Homo sapiens: one gene and its partners. The protein of the gene in region 1 interacts with the protein of each later gene in a pairwise test. Each region holds a gene or a part of one and is shown in the gene's direction. Other genes may lie near its edges.

Region 1 (3,500 bases):
TTCACAGCAACAAAATGTGAAGATAATCCCAGTGACCATTGGGGGATGAATGGAGAAACAAAATGTAGCATACACATAAAATAGAATGTTATTTTCAGCTTTAAAAGAATTAAAGGAAGGGAAATTCTGACACATGCTACAATATGGATGCACCTTGAAAACATTATGCTAAGTAAAATAAGCCAGGCACAAAAGGGCAAATATTATATGATTCCACTCATGTGAGGTACCTAGAAGAGTCAGATGTATAGAGACAGAAAGTAGATGGTGGTTGCCAAAATCTTAGGGTAGGGTAAAGGAGGGGAGATAAATAGGGAATTGTTGTTTAATGGGTCCAGAGTTTCAGTTTGGGAAGCTGAGAAAGTTCTAGAGATGGATGGTGGTGGTGGTTGCAAAAACAGTGTGAATACACCTAATGTCACTGACTTGGCATTTAGTATAATGCCAGTGGTTAAACCAGGAAATTTTATGTATATGTTACTACAATTCAAATAATGTGCAAATCAATACTACTTATGTAGTAAAATTACTAAAAAGTTGGGGTAATGGTAGACGGCAAGTTCATGATAATGGTTATCTATGGTGGAAAGAGGGAATTGTGGTGGGGAGAGGTACTTAGAGTATTTACGGCGTTTACTTCCTAAACTGGCTGGTGCTACATAACTTATAGTTTGCTATATTATTCGTTATACTTTATTATAGTTGGGACTTGGCCAGTTTACTGCACTTTGATGTAACACGATTTGAAGCAGATGCCAATACTGGTATTGTTTCTGTAGCTCCTCACGAGTTTTCTCTCTTTCTCTCTCTCTCTCTTTTAAGGAATAAAACATCAGCTTCGAGTTCACTTGTCTTTTGGATTGGATTGTCCAATCCTTGGTGATCACAAGTACTCAGACTGGAATAGGTTGGCCCCCCAGGTAATACTAATTTGACCCAATGTGCAGCAGATACGGGAGAGAACTTAGGCGTTCCTTTTCTTAAAACTCTGAAATGAGTTACAACAAAGCCTACTGATTGTCTTCAGACATGATACCAAGCTCATTATCTTGATTTTAGAGAAATTTAGGAGCAGTTGGTTACTGTCCTTGTGGAACTGCAGGATCTGTTAGTGAAAAGCTTACTGTTACATTTGTTTATTCAGATTTTGTTGGGAGGCTGTGGACAAGGGGAGGGGTGTTTCTGAAGGCTGGGAGCAGCTTTTCATGGTGCTACTAAAAAACCGCAGGGAAAGCCTTTTCATCCTTATACCACAGCCCATTCTCTTGTTAGGCCAAAAAGCACTGGCCAAAAAGAATGTCTTGGTGTGGTCATTTTTCCCTTACCTGAGTTCTGAGCCGTTCTTAGACATGCCACTGAAGCAGACTCTCCATTACTGTGTCTTCCAGGGGGTTAGTTTTGGTTCCCTGTAAGTAGAAGTGCCCTGACCTTGCATGTTCGTCAAGGGTGGACTGTTGGCCTTGCTCTCAAGGGTCTGTCCTTTCTTTGTATAGAAGCTGTCTGTGGGCACCCTGAAGAAGCTGGGGCTAGAACAGTCGAAGGCCCGCTACATCCCCCTTCACCTGCACGCCCGGCAGCTGATCCTGCCTGCCCTGGGGTCCGGGAAGGAGGAACTCAACTTGGTCTGCAAACTTCCTCGCTTCTTTGTGCATTCCCTGCACCGCCTGCGTTTAGAGATGCCAAATGAGGATCAAAATGAGAACAATGAAGCCAAGTGTCTGGGAGCACAGTGAAGACCATGGGAGCACCCTGGCACCTGGGAGCACAGTGAAGACCCTGAGAGCATCCTGGCACCTGGGAGCGCAGGTTGGCCCCTGAACTGTTCTTTGTTTACAGGACTCTGCTAACTTCTCACTTGGAACAGACTGCGTAAGAGCCAGGTGGGATAAGGTAAAGCAACTCAGCTGCTACAGGGCTTTTAATGGAGAACAAAGTCTATTTACTGATAGTTTGGCTGCACTGTGGAAAAGCCTGCTGGAAGTCTCCCTGCCGTGGGCTCTCATTGCCAATATGGAACAGAGCCCAGGGCCAGGCAGACTGGGGCAGTGACTGGAAAAGGAAAACTAAAGGTCAGAATCCGGGATCAGGAACTGTTTTTATCCAGCAGTGAAGCTCTTGAGCTCTTAGGAAGGTTCCCGTGGTTGGAAAGAACATAATGGTTAACAAATATCACAGCATCCAGGGATTGCCCAGCTATAGTGTGGGTGCCCTACTGAACTCTGATTAGGGAACCTGTATAAGGGTATTGAGTGTGAGGTTGAGGTGGGACATTTGCTGAGCAAGGAGAACCGATGTGAATGGCAGGCAGATAACATGCACACATGAAGCTGGCTGGGTGTAAGGCAGTAGCGGGGAGCGGCATGCTGTCTAACAGCTGTTAGCTCCAGCTGGTTGTTGCCATGTGGGAATGGATTTTCTCATTTCTTCAGAGAAGCTGGAAACCTAGATATTTATGTGAAACCTCCCAGTGTATTGCCAACTAAATCAAATTTTTAAAGATGCTTAGGCACCTAAGCAAATAATACTTAGAGGTTGAATTTGGTCTACAGGCTAGCAGTTTGCAGTCTATGTTTAATGAATGGTATAGAAGTTTGGGGAAAGGTGCCATCTTGAAAATTCTGGATCAGTGGTTGGCATTTTCGCTGCGTGTAGTATGTATCCTTTCTAGGCTTGGAGATGGCTTTGGTTGGTCCGTGAATGTAGTTATGAGAGTGCTGCCATTAAAAAATCAAAAATCTCTGTTGTGGAAGCGTATCTTCTGTTCTTAGGTCTCAGGAAGGAGAGGGCTATACTGAACACCATTAGGGATAGATGGAAATGACCTTGGCCTCCCTGCTCAGCTGGTCCATCTAGTTTCCACCTTGTTTCTTGCAAACAAATACACCTCACACTACTTTTTCTTTCTGACAGAGTTGGAGTGACAGCACAGTTAGGGGGGTACACCCCGGGACAGTCTTTATATGTTCCCTCTGTATAGATGATGCCACTTTCTAGCCCTTTCCCTGTCTCCATGGTACCCATTACTGTGCATAATAAATTTAACTTTGAAAGCACAGACGAGATGACTATATTTGTTTATATAAGACCTAAATATTTTTGCTGTTATTTCTGTTTCTAGTAAACCATGCTAGTCAAGAAAAAGGAACAAGAATGTGACACTTAGGAAATAGTGATAATTGACATTAATTCAGGGAAACAGATGAACAGGAATACCCACAAGAATGGAGAAGAGGCTGGGCGCGGTGGCTCACACCTATAATCCCAGCACTCTGAGAGGCCGAAAAGGCCGAGGCGGGCGGATCACCTCAGCCCAGGAATTCGAGACCAGCCTGGGCAACGTGGTGAAACCCTGTTGCTACAAAAAATACAAAAATTAGCTGGGTGTGTTGGCACACGCACACCTGTGGTCCCAGCTACTCAGGAGGCTGAGCTAGGAGGATCACCTGAGCCCAGGAGGTTGAGACTGTAGTGAGCCATGATTGTGCCACTGCACTCCAGCC
Region 2 (3,500 bases), on another chromosome or scaffold:
CTCCAAGAGGTGCCTGTGGTCAGCAGAGGAGGGACCTTGTTCCACTGAGGCAGGAAGATGAGAGAGACACTGGGTTCTCTGATGGGTTCACCAGCAGACCCTGTGAAATTCATAATGGCCCCTAAGGTAGGGGTTGCCTGACATGTTCAACTTGGATTTAACCCTTAAGGCATAAGAAGCCGCTGAAAATGTTCAGACGTTACAAAACTAGGGCCGGGCACGGTGGCTCACGGCTGTAATCCCAGCACTTCGGGAGGCTGAGGCGGTTGGATCACCTGAGGTCAGCAGTTCAAGACCAGCCTGACCAACATGGTGAAACCCCGTCTCTACTAAAAATACAAAAAAAAAAAAAATAGCCAGGCGTGGTGGTGCGTGCCTGTAATCCCAGCTACTCGGGAGGCTGAGGCAGGAGAATCACTTGAACCTGGGATACAGAGGTTGCAGTGAGCCGAGATTGCGCCGCTGCGCTCCAGCCACAGAGCGAGAAACTGTCTCAAAAAAAAAAAAAGAAAGAAAAGAAAAAACCGGCGAGGACTGAGGTAAACCACAAAATTGTCCAGGCTTTTTATGTGGAGGGAATTTGCAGACTCACGTGCAGAGAACCCAACAAACCCAGACTTTGGGGCAGCTGAGGCAGCTAGAATGTGTGGGGTGTGGTACCAGAAAGGAAGGAGTTACGCCCAAAACAAAGAGCTCCAGCAATCTGCGCGTGAGCCCGCTTGCATCTTGGGTTGGATCCGATTTGCTGGTGCACACAGTGAAACCTCGTGGAGCTGGACCAAGAGCAACTTGAAGGGGAAGAGTAAGTGTAAGGGGACAGATGAGCAGGACTCACACAGGGCCGTGGTTATTTCAGTTCCCACCAGCCAGAGTATAGAAGCCACTTTAAATACAAGGAGCTTTCATGACACCTTAGAGGAAACACAGCTTGGAAGTGGCGCAGAATAAGCTGCAGAGGAAAGGCCACTCCAATGCCGTGGAAACAAGTGCAAGGCAAGCCCTGGAAACACCACTGCCTGCTAGCACGGAGTACACACAGCACTCTTGAGAGAAGGAAGCCAGGCGAAGTGGCTCACACCTGTAATCCCAGCACTTTGGGAGGCCGAAGCAGGCGGATTATCTGAGGTCAGGAGTTCAAGACCAGCCTGGCCAATATGGTGAAACGCCGTCTCTACTACAAAAAATTAGCCATGTGTGGTGATGGGCGCCTGTGGTCCCAGCTACTTGGGAGGCTGAGGCAAGAGAACCACATGAGCCCGGGAGGCAGAGGTTGCAGTGAGCCGAGATCGCATCACTGCACTTCAGCCTGGGCAACAGAGCAAGACTCCTTCTAAAAAAAAAAAAAAAAATTCACGTCCAGAATCTAATCAGTCATGGGCAGACAAGCCAAAGCAGAAAAATGGACTTGTCACTGGAGGGGGTCCAGTAGCAGGCCCAGTTTTGATAGGATTAGCCAACAAAGACAGTAAACAATTATAAAAATGTTCCCTGTGCTCAAAGAAATAACACAAAAATGTGACTGAGGGCTGGGCGTGGTGGCTCACACCTGTAATCCCAGCACTCTGGGAGGCCGAGGCGGGTGGATCACGAGGTCAGGAGATCAAGACCATCCTGGCTAACATGGTGAAACCCCGTCTCTACTAAAAATACAAAAAATTAGCCGGGCGTGGTGGCGGGCACCTGTAGTCCCAGCTCCTCCAGAGGCTGAGGCAGGAGAATTGCTTGGACCCGGGAGGTGGAGCTTGCAGTGAGCCAAGATCGTGCCACTGCACTCCAGCCTGGGTGACAGAGCGAGACCCCGTCTCAAAAAATAAGAAAACATGACTGAGAAATGGAAGATACAGAAAAGAAGCAAGTTGGACAAAATGTCACTGGAACTAATCTCCCAAGTAGAAGAATTCCACATTGTTTACTGAGATAGTTCCCCTTCGAGGAGGTGATGCTTAACTCCTCACTCCAGAAGCCTGGGCTTTACCTAGTGACCCTCTTCCAAAGAGCAGAGCACAGAAGCAGGAGGAGCAGCTTTCCAGTGGAGACCTCCAGCAACACAGCCTCACCAGGGACCATGCTCACCATCAGCAGTGACATGCGTATCACTGTTGTGTACTCTTTTTTTTTTTTTTTTTTTTTTTGAGACGGAGTCTCGCTCTGTTGCCAGGCTGGAGTGCAGTGGCACAATCTCGGCTCACTGCAACCTCCACCTCCCAGGTCCAAGCAATTCTCCTGCCTCAGCCTCCCACGAAGCTGGGACTACAGGCACCCGCCACCTCGCCCGGCTAATTTTGTTGTATTTTTAGTAGAGATGGGGTTTCACCGTGTTAGCCAGGATGGTCTCAATCTCCTGACCTCGTGATCCGCCCACCTTGGCCTCCCAAAGTGTTGGGCGCGTCAGCCACCGCGCCCGGCCTGTTGTGTACTCTTGATAGGATGATGAGAACAGCACTCTACCTCTTTGATCTTCCTCCCAAAAACATACGTAACCCCAGCTAATGATGAAAAAACATCAAACAAATCCAAATTGAGAGACATTCCACAAACTGTTTGACGAGTCCTCAAAATTGTCAAGGTTCTCAAAAACTAGGCAAGTCTGAAAGGTGCCAGAGTCAGTGGGACTGAAGAAGATGTGACAACTGGATGGATTTTGGATGATGTCCTGGAGCAGAGGAAGGATTGGGTAAAAAGCTAAGGAATCTGATTAGAATGTGGGTCCTAGTTAACAATGTGTCTAATGTTCTTGAGACAACTGTACCACACAAAGGCAGGATGTTAATGATGGGGGACACTGGTGTAGGGCATGTATTCTAAAGTAAAAAGGTGGTTCTTCAGAGTCACCGGAGCGGTTTAACAAAACATTAGAAACTTCAGAAGAAAAGATTCCTGAACTAAAAGCAATGGAAACTGTCCACAGTGATGTACAGGGAGAAAAAGGACTGCAAAAACTTAGCCGAGCTTCAAGGACATAATATCATGTGGTCTAACGTATTTGAGGTTCCAGAAAACAGTGGGGAAGAGAATACAGAAATATGACCAAAAGGCTGGACACGGTGGCTCCTGCCCGAAATCCCAGCACTCTGGGAGGCTGACATGGGTGGATCGCTTGAGCCCAGGAGTTCAAGACCAGCCTGGGCAACATAGCAAGACCCTGTCTCTATAAATAATACAAAAATTAGCCGGGCGTGGTAGTGCCTGCCTGTGGTCCCAACTACTCGGGAGGCTGAGGCGGGAGGATCACCTGAGTGCAGGAGGTGGAGGCTGCAGTGAGCCATGATCGTACCACTGCACTCCAGCCTGGGCAACAGAGCCCTGTCTCAAAAAAAAAATTATGGCCAAAATTTTTCCCAAATTTTTGAAAAGCTGTAAGCTCACAAATCCAAGAATATCAGTCTTAAGCAGGATAAAACCAAAACCATATCAAGGTACATTATATAATCAAAGTGCTGGAACAGGCTGGTGAAGAGAAAATCTTAAAAGCTCCAGAAGAGGCCGGGCGCGGTGGCTCA
Region 3 (3,500 bases), 7.1 Mb from region 1:
TTGATCTCATGATCCGCCCACCTCGGCCTCCCAAAGTGCTGGGATTACAGGCGTGAGCCACCGCACCTGGCCCCATCTCTCACTTTTTAACCTTTGTCTGACTTATGTTTTAGGTATGCCTTTTATCAATAGCAAATAACTGGGATTTTAATAAAATCCAATCTGAAAACAATAACAATAGTGAACTGTATTCTATAGTACCTACTGTGTGTTAAGTATTGCTGGGTACTTTATTTTTTTTTTGAGATGGAGTCTCATTCTTGTTGCCCAGGCTGTAGTGCAGTGGTGCAATCTCGGCTCACTGCAACCTCTGCCTCCTCGGTTCAAGCGATTCTTCTGCCTCAGCCTCCCGAGTAGCTGGGATTACAGGTGCGTGCCACTACGCCCGTCTAATTTTTTTTTGTATTTTTAGTAGAGACAGGCTTTCACCATGTTAGCCAGGATGCCCCTGTTGGCCAGCCTGGTCTTGAACTCCTGACCTCAGGTGATCCGCCCGCCTCAGCCTCCCAAAGTGCTGGGATTATAGACGTGAGCCACCATGCCCGGCCAGTACTTTTTTAAACCTACATTAAAGCACTATTTCCCAAAGAGCCTATGAGATAGGCACTATTATTATTATTATTTATTATTATTATTTTTAGATGGAGTCTTGCTCTGTCGCCAGGCTGGAGTGTGGTGGTGCGATCTCAGCTCACTGCAACCTCCACCTCCCAGGTTCAAGCAATTCTACTGCCTCAGCCTCCCGAGTAGCTGGGATTACAGGCACATGCCACTATGCCCAGCTAATTTTTTTTTGTATTTTTAGTAGAGACGGGGTTTCACTGTGTTAGCCAGGATGGGATAGGCACTATTATTATACCCATTTTACAAATAAGGAAACGGAGGCACAGAGGAATAAAATAACTTGCCCAAAGTCACGGTACTAATAAGTGTGGCAGGATTTAAAAGAAAAAGGAAAAAAAAAACTTTTTTTCAGAGTAAGATGGAGTCTTACTCTGTTGCTCAGGCTAGAGTGCAATGGCATGATCTCGGCTAATTGCAACCTCCGCCTCCCGGGTTCAAGTGATTCTCCTGCTTCAGCCTCCCAAGTAGCTGAGATTACAGGTGCCCGCCACCACGCCCGGGTAATTTTTGTATTTTTAGTAGAGACAGGATTTCACCATATTGGCCAGGCTGGTCCCAAACTCCTGACCTTGTGATCTGCCTGCCTCGGCCTCCCAAAGTGTTGGGATTACAGGCGTGAGCCACTGCGCCCGACCAAAGCCACTTTTTTTTTAGAGACAGAGTCTTGCTATGTTACCAGGTTGATCTTAAACTCTTGGCCTCAAGTGATCCTCCTGCCTCAGCATGCTGAGCAGCTGGGACTATAAGCATAAGCCACTGCATCTGGCAGGAATACATTTTTCTTTTCTTTTTTTTTTTTTTTGTGGGAGTGCAGTGGCTCGATCTCCGCTCACTGCAAGGTCCGCCTCCCGGGTTCATGCCACTCTCCTGCCTCAGCCTCCCAAATAGCTGGGACTACAGGCGCCCACCACCAAGCCCAGCTAATTTTTTTTTGTATTTTTTAGTAGAGACGGGGTTTGACTGTGTTAGCCAGGATGGTCTCGATCTCCTGACCTCGTGATCTGTCTGCCTCGGCCTCCCAAAGTGCTGGGATTACAGGCGTGAGCCACCGCACCCGGCCCAAAATGTGGTTGATAGTTCACTGAACTGATTTCCTAACCCACTAGTGGGTCACAACACAGTCTGAAAAACTCTATTCTACAGGAAATATGGAGGCAGCTCTCCTTCTCCCACCCCAAATTCTGTTTTAAGTCTGATGACTATGAACCATAATTGATAGTTTCAAAATTCAAGTCATATTTATACAAAGGCAAAATTGGGGAATGATTATATTTTCTAAAGTATCTGTGTTTCAAAACAAGTTAACTTATATAAAGCGCTGAAAATACAGTGCTTAGGGATGCTAGAGAGATAGGAAATGGATTGGAAGAGTTGATGGGGCCTTCTTGGAGAAGGCAGATCTTGAGCAAAACATGAGGGGAAGGAGGAGTGGTGGTTTTACAAGGAGAAGTGGGAGGTGTCAGATCGAGAGGCAGCATCTTCATCAGGAACTGCAGAAACTCAAGTCAGAGGACTTGCGTGCCGGCCATTTCTGCTGTCTGTTTCTGGCATAGGCCTTGCACACACTCTCACCTCTGCCTAGACCACACTTCTTCACCTATTTACAGATACTCATCCATCGTACTTCAGAGTTCAACATGGGGACGTTTCTCAGAACACCATGTCAAATGACCTCTGTTTAATGCTTTTATAGCACCATGTATATCCCCGCTTTGTAACACTCATCACTGGTTGCAGTTTTATATTTATAGATCTGATTATTTGATGAATATGCTTTCTCCCTGACTGAAAGCTATGTGAGGGCAAGGAGTGGGACACTTTTTACTTGTTATAGTCCCTCTAACTGGCACACAATTTATGGTCATTAAATACTGGTATTTGCTAAATGAACCCTGGTAATTTGGTTAGAGTCCAGCCTCCTCACGAGTCCAGCCTCCTCACTCTCTGTTTAGTGCTGCAGGTGGAAGGTGACCTGAGCCTTGGAAAGTGTCAGACTCTTCCTTTTAAACCCCTTTCTACAGAGGAAGAATTCTCCTGCTTGTGGCAGGAATGTGGCTTTTGTTCTCTGGACAGTTCTGCTGACCTCATCCGCCATGTCTACTTCCACTGCTACCACACCAAGCTGAAACAGTGGGGGCTGCAGGCCTTGCAAAGCCAGGCTGACCTTGGCCCCTGCATCCTGGACTTCCAGAGCCGGAACGTCATCCCTGATATCCCTGACCACTTCCTGTGTCTGTGGGAGCACTGTGAGGTCAGCAGGCAGTGCCAGTAATTGGGGTGGAAGGAAGCTGGGGGTCTTAACTCTGATGCCTTGTCCCTTTCAGGGATGCCTTATATTTCCAAGATTCCTGCTAGTATCTCTCTTCCATTTCTTTTGCTCTTTTAAAATTTGTTTATTTTTTACACACAGGCTCTTGATCTGAAGCCCAGGCTAGAGTGCAGTGGTACAATCATAGCTCACTGTAACCTTGAACTCCTGGGCTCAAGCAATCCTCCCACCTCAGCCTCCCAAGTAGCTAGGACTACAGGCATGTACCACCATGCCCTGCTAACTTCTAAATTTTTTGTAGAGACAAGGTCTGGGTGTGTTGCCCAGGCCGGTCTCGAACTCTTGGCCTCAAGTGATTCTCCTGCCTCAGCCTCTCAAAGTGCTGGGATTACAGGGTTTAGCAACCGCACCCGGCCACTCCTCCATTTCTGTGCAGTGCCTTTCCTCAAAATTTCCCATCCCCATCAAGTTAATTTGGGAGAGAGCCAAGAATTCTTCGGGCACATAGGGGTGAGTCCCTCTACCCACCCTCAGTCCTCACCCCAAGTTGCCCCTGGCACAGAATTCCTTCGACAATCCTGAGTGGTTTTATCGGCATGTGGAAGCA

What was found. The genes of interacting proteins can lie anywhere in the genome.
Region 2: the proteins of RPUSD4 (region 1) and HSF1 interact in binary tests that used the Homo sapiens proteins (3 or more experiments, as listed by UniProt).
Region 3: the proteins of RPUSD4 (region 1) and HINFP interact in a two-hybrid assay, tested with the Homo sapiens proteins (one large-scale study listed by BioGRID).

Annotation. Positions count from the first base shown.
Region 1 is NC_000011.10:126,201,651-126,205,150, reverse strand, and holds the end of RPUSD4 (pseudouridylate synthase RPUSD4, mitochondrial), read left to right. Parts: intron 1-822; coding exon 823-920; intron 921-1,493; coding exon 1,494-1,733; 3' UTR 1,734-3,055; downstream 3,056-3,500. UniProt on the Homo sapiens protein: Catalyzes uridine to pseudouridine isomerization (pseudouridylation) of different mitochondrial RNA substrates. Acts on position 1397 in 16S mitochondrial ribosomal RNA (16S mt-rRNA).
Region 2 is NC_000008.11:144,298,104-144,301,603, forward strand, and holds part of HSF1 (heat shock factor protein 1), read left to right. Parts: intron 1-3,500. UniProt on the Homo sapiens protein: Functions as a stress-inducible and DNA-binding transcription factor that plays a central role in the transcriptional activation of the heat shock response (HSR), leading to the expression of a large class of molecular chaperones, heat shock proteins (HSPs), that protect cells from cellular insult damage.
Region 3 is NC_000011.10:119,128,080-119,131,579, forward strand, and holds part of HINFP (histone H4 transcription factor), read left to right. Parts: intron 1-271; exon of another isoform or gene 272-369; intron 370-2,576; coding exon of another isoform or gene 2,577-2,645; coding exon 2,646-2,875; intron 2,876-3,455; coding exon 3,456-3,500. UniProt on the Homo sapiens protein: Transcriptional repressor that binds to the consensus sequence 5'-CGGACGTT-3' and to the RB1 promoter. Transcriptional activator that promotes histone H4 gene transcription at the G1/S phase transition in conjunction with NPAT.